2 linked regions of the Homo sapiens genome follow. The protein of the gene in region 1 purifies or fractionates together with the protein of each later gene. This does not show direct contact. Each region holds a gene or a part of one and is shown in the gene's direction. Other genes may lie near its edges.

The links. The genes of interacting proteins can lie anywhere in the genome.
Region 2: the proteins of ARHGAP24 (region 1) and ZNF729 purify together in Homo sapiens (affinity purification with mass spectrometry, with the first as the bait; one study listed by BioGRID). This does not show direct contact.

The regions. Positions count from the first base shown.
Region 1 is NC_000004.12:85,992,650-85,996,149, forward strand, and holds part of ARHGAP24 (rho GTPase-activating protein 24), read left to right. Parts: intron 1-1,933; coding exon 1,934-3,008; intron 3,009-3,500. UniProt on the Homo sapiens protein: Rho GTPase-activating protein involved in cell polarity, cell morphology and cytoskeletal organization. Acts as a GTPase activator for the Rac-type GTPase by converting it to an inactive GDP-bound state.
Region 2 is NC_000019.10:22,310,441-22,313,940, forward strand, and holds part of ZNF729 (zinc finger protein 729), read left to right. Parts: intron 1-3,230; coding exon 3,231-3,500. UniProt on the Homo sapiens protein: May be involved in transcriptional regulation.

The DNA.
Region 1 (3,500 bases):
CAATGTCTTCAAACACAGTACACAAGTTTGACAGTTATTCTAACTGCTCTAAAATTCTTTTTATCAGATTCACTGCTAACATGCATGGAAAATATGATGACAAATTCGGAGATTCCTAAAAGAGAAAAGAAGGCTATATAATACAATCAATTATTACATTGTCTTTTTTCACAATTCTGTAATAATTGATGGTAATTCAATAGATATTTATCTTTATCTAACTTTATCTTTAAAACTATCCCAAGTTTACTTATTACTGCTACGGTTTTAAATTGCAGCAGCTGAAATATAGTAGGACAAATGCATAATTTGGAATAAGACTAAATATTGCATTTCACCTTGATCACATCGTCTCTGTGCCCTGAGCAAATAGTTTAACTTCTCTAACCCTCAATTTTCTCATCTGAAAAAAAAAATGAATCCTCTCTTTCGGACTTTCAAGAAATTTAATTTGGAAGATATAAGGGAAACATTTGCATCTACTACAGTGTTTCTCAAAGTGTAATGCACCCAGGAATCACCTGGGGATTCTGATTCAGAAGCTCTGCATTGGGTGCTAAAATTTTCAGCTTCCAGGTGATGCCAGTGCTACTATTCTATTATTGCTGATGTTATCTGGAAGCTGGTTTATAATGCAAAATCTCATGTCCCACCCAATGCCTACTGAATTTCAATCTTCCTTTTAACAGGATCTCCAGGTAATTTTTATGAACTTTAAAATTTGAATAACATTGATGTAGCAGTAGATCTTGCTTATTGCTGATATGCAGTCGAAAATATTATAAGTTTTGAATCATCACAAGAAAAGTGTGTAGAATATAAATGAATATAATATGTTTTTTCCTCTTCAAAATCTGATTTTGAATTATATTTCCCAGGTGTCACCGGAAGCTAAAGAGTGGCCTTGCCTCAGGTCAGGTTTCTACTCCCTGACAGCCTCTCAATTAGCTGCTGTTGTAATGAAATTATGCATTGTCAAAAGCCTTTTTGCATCATTTTCTTCACCAAATCTCAAGTTTTAAGTATTTTATATAGAAACTACATAAAATCCAACCCTGCTCTGCCCATTCCAGTGGCTGCCAGATAGCTGGTTTTCTTTGTGATTTTGGGCTGTTGGTTTTCTAGGAGAGGAGGAGAAGATTAGAGCAAGTTAAAACGCCACAGACCTTGCTGCTCTTACTGAGATTCAGCCATTTTTCTTAAGTAAACACTCTCCAGATTGCATCAAGCCATTAGTTAATTTACAGAATTCCAAAATAGTTGATTCTGGAGATTTTTGCTAGTTGCTTATATGGTGAAGAGGATTTTTGGAGGTCTTCACTACACCATTCTGGCTGATGTCGCTTAAAATGCCCTGAAGTTTTTGAATGGTGAACAAAAGTCTTATGGATTTTCATTATCTTGATATATTAGAGAAACCATGCATCCACCTGATTGTATTGGGCTCCATTTACAGATGCCACTAAAATATCTTGATAGTTTGAGGCAATTATTAGATGAGAGGTCACAGTGACCTCCTCCTAAGAAATATTTCTCAGAATTAAATGTCAAATTTTTAATAAACATTGTATTATGATTAAGAGCCCAGGTTTTTAATGAACCCTGGGATCAAGCCCTGGGTCTGGTCCTTAACGTGTAACCTTAATCAAGTTACTTAACCTTTATAATACAGTGATAATAACAGTATGTATGTATAGATTTATTTCAAAATTCAATTAAATTACAAAAGCAAAGTGCTTGACACAGTTCATGGCACAAAGTAAATGCTCAAGATGTTTTAGCTTCTATTGCTATTATCATAGTTAAGAATATGGTTTGGTACTGATAATAATAATGAATGTTCTCTTGAATGTGTTTCTTTAAGAGTCACATTGAAATAGAAATAAATAAAAACTGTCTCACTCATGCTACTTTATGTTCTATGCAATTCTAGGCACTGTGGTGGTCCAGCAGTTGATGTCAGTGATGATTAGCAAACATGATTGCCTCTTTCCCAAAGATGCAGAACTACAAAGCAAGCCCCAAGATGGAGTGAGCAACAACAATGAAATTCAGAAGAAAGCCACCATGGGGCAGTTACAGAACAAGGAGAACAATAACACCAAGGACAGCCCTAGTAGGCAGTGCTCCTGGGACAAGTCTGAGTCACCCCAGAGAAGCAGCATGAACAATGGATCCCCCACAGCTCTATCAGGCAGCAAAACCAACAGCCCAAAGAACAGTGTTCACAAGCTAGATGTGTCTAGAAGCCCCCCTCTCATGGTCAAAAAGAACCCAGCCTTTAATAAGGGTAGTGGGATAGTTACCAATGGGTCCTTCAGCAGCAGTAATGCAGAAGGTCTTGAGAAAACCCAAACCACCCCCAATGGGAGCCTACAGGCCAGAAGGAGCTCTTCACTGAAGGTATCTGGTACCAAAATGGGCACGCACAGTGTACAGAATGGAACGGTGCGCATGGGCATTTTGAACAGCGACACACTCGGGAACCCCACAAATGTTCGAAACATGAGCTGGCTGCCAAATGGCTATGTGACCCTGAGGGATAACAAGCAGAAAGAACAAGCTGGAGAGTTAGGCCAGCACAACAGACTGTCCACCTATGATAATGTCCATCAACAGTTCTCCATGATGAACCTTGATGACAAGCAGAGCATTGACAGTGCTACCTGGTCCACTTCCTCCTGTGAAATCTCCCTCCCTGAGAACTCCAACTCCTGTCGCTCTTCTACCACCACCTGCCCAGAGCAAGACTTTTTTGGGGGGAACTTTGAGGACCCTGTTTTGGATGGGCCCCCGCAGGACGACCTTTCCCACCCCAGGGACTATGAAAGCAAAAGTGACCACAGGAGTGTGGGAGGTCGAAGTAGTCGTGCCACCAGTAGCAGTGACAACAGTGAGACATTTGTGGGCAACAGCAGCAGCAACCACAGTGCACTGCACAGTTTAGTTTCCAGCCTGAAACAGGAAATGACCAAACAGAAGATAGAGTATGAGTCCAGGATAAAGAGGTAAGGAAAATCTGGAGGTCGTAACTACCAGAGAGGGCTCAGTAGCCTCCTACTGTGGGACAGGATCACACTGAGGGTGACATATGCTGGCTCCAAAGTCAAAGAAACACAAGTTTGCTCCATCATTTATGAGCTTTGTGACTGTGTGCAAGTTAGCTTCATCTCTGTGAGCTTTGATTCCCTAATGTAAACAATTTAAATACTAGTAGTATCTACCTCAAAAGCACATAAGAAGTGATTGAACATTTCCCTGGTACAGAATAGGCTCAATAATGTCATCTTTGATTATTATTAAATAGATAGATTTGCATTAGAGGGCTGGAAGGAGAGGGGCTGTGAGGAGATGGACAGAGCATTAGGAGCCTGTTAGTTTTCACTAACAAGAAAAGGATGAAACTAGGGTAAAAAAAGTAGAAGTAAATAGACCTCCATGTTTTATTCTTTCAATCATTGAATGTTGAGAGAGTGCCTTCTATCTGCCAGGCTCTGTTC
Region 2 (3,500 bases), on another chromosome or scaffold:
TGCATCTATTGAGATGATCATATGATTTTTGTTTTTATTCCTTTCTATGTGGTGTATCACATTTATTGACTTGCATTTGTTAAACCATCCCTGCATCACTGGTATGAAACCTATTTGATCATGGATTCTCTTTTTGATATGTTACTGGATTCAGTTAGCTACTATTTTAAGGATTTTAGCATCTATTTTCATCAGGGACATCAGTCTGTGGTTTTCTTTTTTGGTTAATGCCCTTTTCTAATTTTGGTATTAGGGTGATGCTGGCTTCATAGAATAAATTAGGAAGGGCTCCCTCTTTCTCTGTCTTGTGGAATAGTGTCAATAGCATTGCTACCAATTCTTTGAATGTCTGGTAGAATTCTGCTAAATTCTGTCTGGTCCTAGACTTTTTTTGTGGATGATTTTAAAATTACCATTTCAGTCTCGCTGCTTGTTATTGGTCTGTTCAGGGTATCTAATTCTTCCTGATTTAAGCTGGGTGGGTTGCATTTTTCCAGAAATTTACCCATTTCTTTTAGGTTTTCTAGTTAGTGCACTTAAAGGTGTTCATAGTAGCCTTCAATGATCTTTTGTATTTCTGTGGTGTCAGATGTAATATCTCCTGTTTCCTTTCTTATTGAGGTTATTTGGATTTTCTTTTTTTCTTGGTTAATCTTGCTTATGGTCTGTCAATTGTATTTATCTTTTTAAAGAGCCAGGTTTTTGTTTCATTTATCTTTTGGTTTTTGTCTGTTGGTTTGTTTCAATTTCATTTCATTCTGCTCTGATTTTGATTATTTTTTTTCTTCTCCTGGGTTTGCGTTTGGTTTTTTCTTGTTTCTCTAGTTCTTTGAGGTGTGAATTTAGAGTGTCTGTGTTCTTTCAGACTTTTTGATGTAGGTGTTTGGGGCTATGAACTTTCCTCTTAGCACCGCCTTTGCTGTATCCTAGAGGTTTTAATAAGTTGTGTCACTTTTGTTGTTGAGTTTGAAGAATTTTTTTAATTTCCATTTTGATTTCATATTTGACCCCATGATTATTCAGGAGCAGGTTTTTTAATTTACATGTATTTGCATGGTTTTGAAGGTTCCTTTTGGAGTTGAATTCCACTTTTATTCCACTGTGGTCTGAGAGAGTGCTTGATATAATTTCAGTTCTCTTAAATTTATTGAGGTTCATTTTGGGGCCTATCATATGGTCTATTTGGAGAAAGTTTCATGTGCTGTTGAATAGAATGTGTATTCTGCAGTTGTTGGATGGAATGTTCTGTATATATTTGTTAAGTCCATTTGCTCCAAGGTATAGTTTAAATCCATTGTTTATTTGTTGACTTTCTGTCTTGATGACCTGTCTAGTGCTGTCAGTAGAGTATTGAAGTCCTCACTATTATTGTGTTGGTGTCTATCTCATTTATTAGGTCTACTAGTAATTGTTTTATAAATTTGGGAGCTCCAGTGTTAGGTGCATGTATGTTTAGGACTGTGATATGTTCCTGTTGTACAAGACCTTTTACCATTGTATAATGTCCCTCTTTGTTTTTTTTAATTGCTGTTGCTTTAAAGTATATTTTGTCATATGTAAGAATAGCCCTTATAAACCTCTTGTTTAGCATGATATTGTGGGGTTCTCTGGCTTAGGTGAATAGCAAGCCATTTTCATGAATTACCTCATGCCATTAGGGGAAGAGGTATCCTCATTTTTTTCAATTTTTTATAGTGATCTGTGTTCCTGTTTCTCTCATTCAGTGTTATTTAATTTATTTGAAATTTTAAAAATTAATTTATTAATCTTCATTGTTTTATGGTTGCTTTCTAAAAATTTTATACTTTTTTTGATTGGGCCATGTTGTCCTAATATTCTATATACATTGTAATCGTTGATTAAAATTTGTACATCAAAAAAGCTACCTGTTGGAATCTTCATAATGTAGCCTTGTCCTGGAATAGTCTGAAACCAATTGTCTTGGCTAGAGATTCTGGGAGTCTGTCAAACATGTTCTTAGAATGTGTCTTGTCTGAAATTGTGTGTGTGTGTGTGTGTGTGTGTGTGTGTGTGTGTTTAGATAAAGAACGTTATTCAGGTTTCTTCTCAATAGTAATCACTTGCTACATCTATTTTTTGTGTGTGTGGTACTATATTCAGTGCTGCTGTAACATCTAACTTTGGTCTCAGCAGACTCAAGCTGTCATTTTAAAGTATGCCACCATTTCTTTCAGCACTTTATGTCATCAGAGACAAAAACCAGAAAGGCCCCTGGAAGCCAGAAATAAATATATATGTGCTACTGGTTTTTTTGTTTGTTTGTTTTTTTGAGACAGAGTTTCACTCTTTTTGCCCAGGCTGGAGTGCGATGGCATGATCTCGGCTCACCTCAACCTCCGCCTCCCAGGTTCAAGCAATTCTCCTGCCTCAACCTCCCTAGTAGCTGGGATTTCAGGCGTGTGCCACCACGCCCAGCTAATTTTCTATTTTTAGTAGAGATGGGGTTTCTCCATGTTGGTCACGCTGGTCTCGAACTCCCGACCTCAGGTGATCCGCCCACCTCGGCCTCCCAAAGTGCTGGGATTACAGGCATGAGCCACTGCGCCTGGCCATGCCACTGTTTTATTTGTCTTTAAACAATAAACCAGGAGTTGGCAATTTCCTTTTTTTTTTGAGACAGGGTCTCACTCTGTCACATGGGCTGGAGTGCACTAGCATAATCTCATCTCACTGCAATCTCTACTCCCCAAGTTCAAGTGATTGCCTCAGCCTCCCAAGTAGTTGGGACTACAGACGTGTGCCACCACATCTGGCTAATTTTTGAATTTTTAGTAGAGATGAAGTTTTTCCATTTTGACCAGGCTGGTCTTGAACTCTTGATCTCAGGTAATCCACTTGCCTTGGCCTCCAAAAGTGCTGGGATTACAGGCATGAACTGCTATTCCCAGTCAGCAATTTACTTCTAAAGAGCCTATGCTATTTTTGGTAGCAGGAAGAGCTGCATTGGGAAACTGTAACCGACTTCCCTTTCCTTCTGTGTGGCTCTTTGCATTGTGCTTACTTGGGGTACTTAACTTACATATAAATTTTCCACAAATGTATTTGGTCAGTATGTTTTTGTTACATTTATATGTCTATGAAGAAATTAGGGCCTGTCTTATTTTGCTGTGCCATCTTATGTGGTTTGCATAATTTTATAGGTTAGATTTGTAAAGTATATTCATCTGAGTCTAGCAAGTGGAATAATTTGTTATTTTTATTTCTTCTAGTTATGCGTTCTCATTTTACACAAGACCTTTGGCCAGATCAGAGCACAAAAGATTCTTTCCAAGAAGTAATACTGAGAACATATGCAAGATGTGGACATAAGAATTTACGATTAAGAAAAGATTGTAAAAGTGCCAATGAGGGTAAGATGCACAAAGAAGGTTATAATAAACTTAACCAATGCAGGACAGCTACCCAGAGAAAAATATTTCAGTGTAACAAACATATGAAAGTCTTTCATAAATATTCAAATAGAAATAAGGTTAGACACA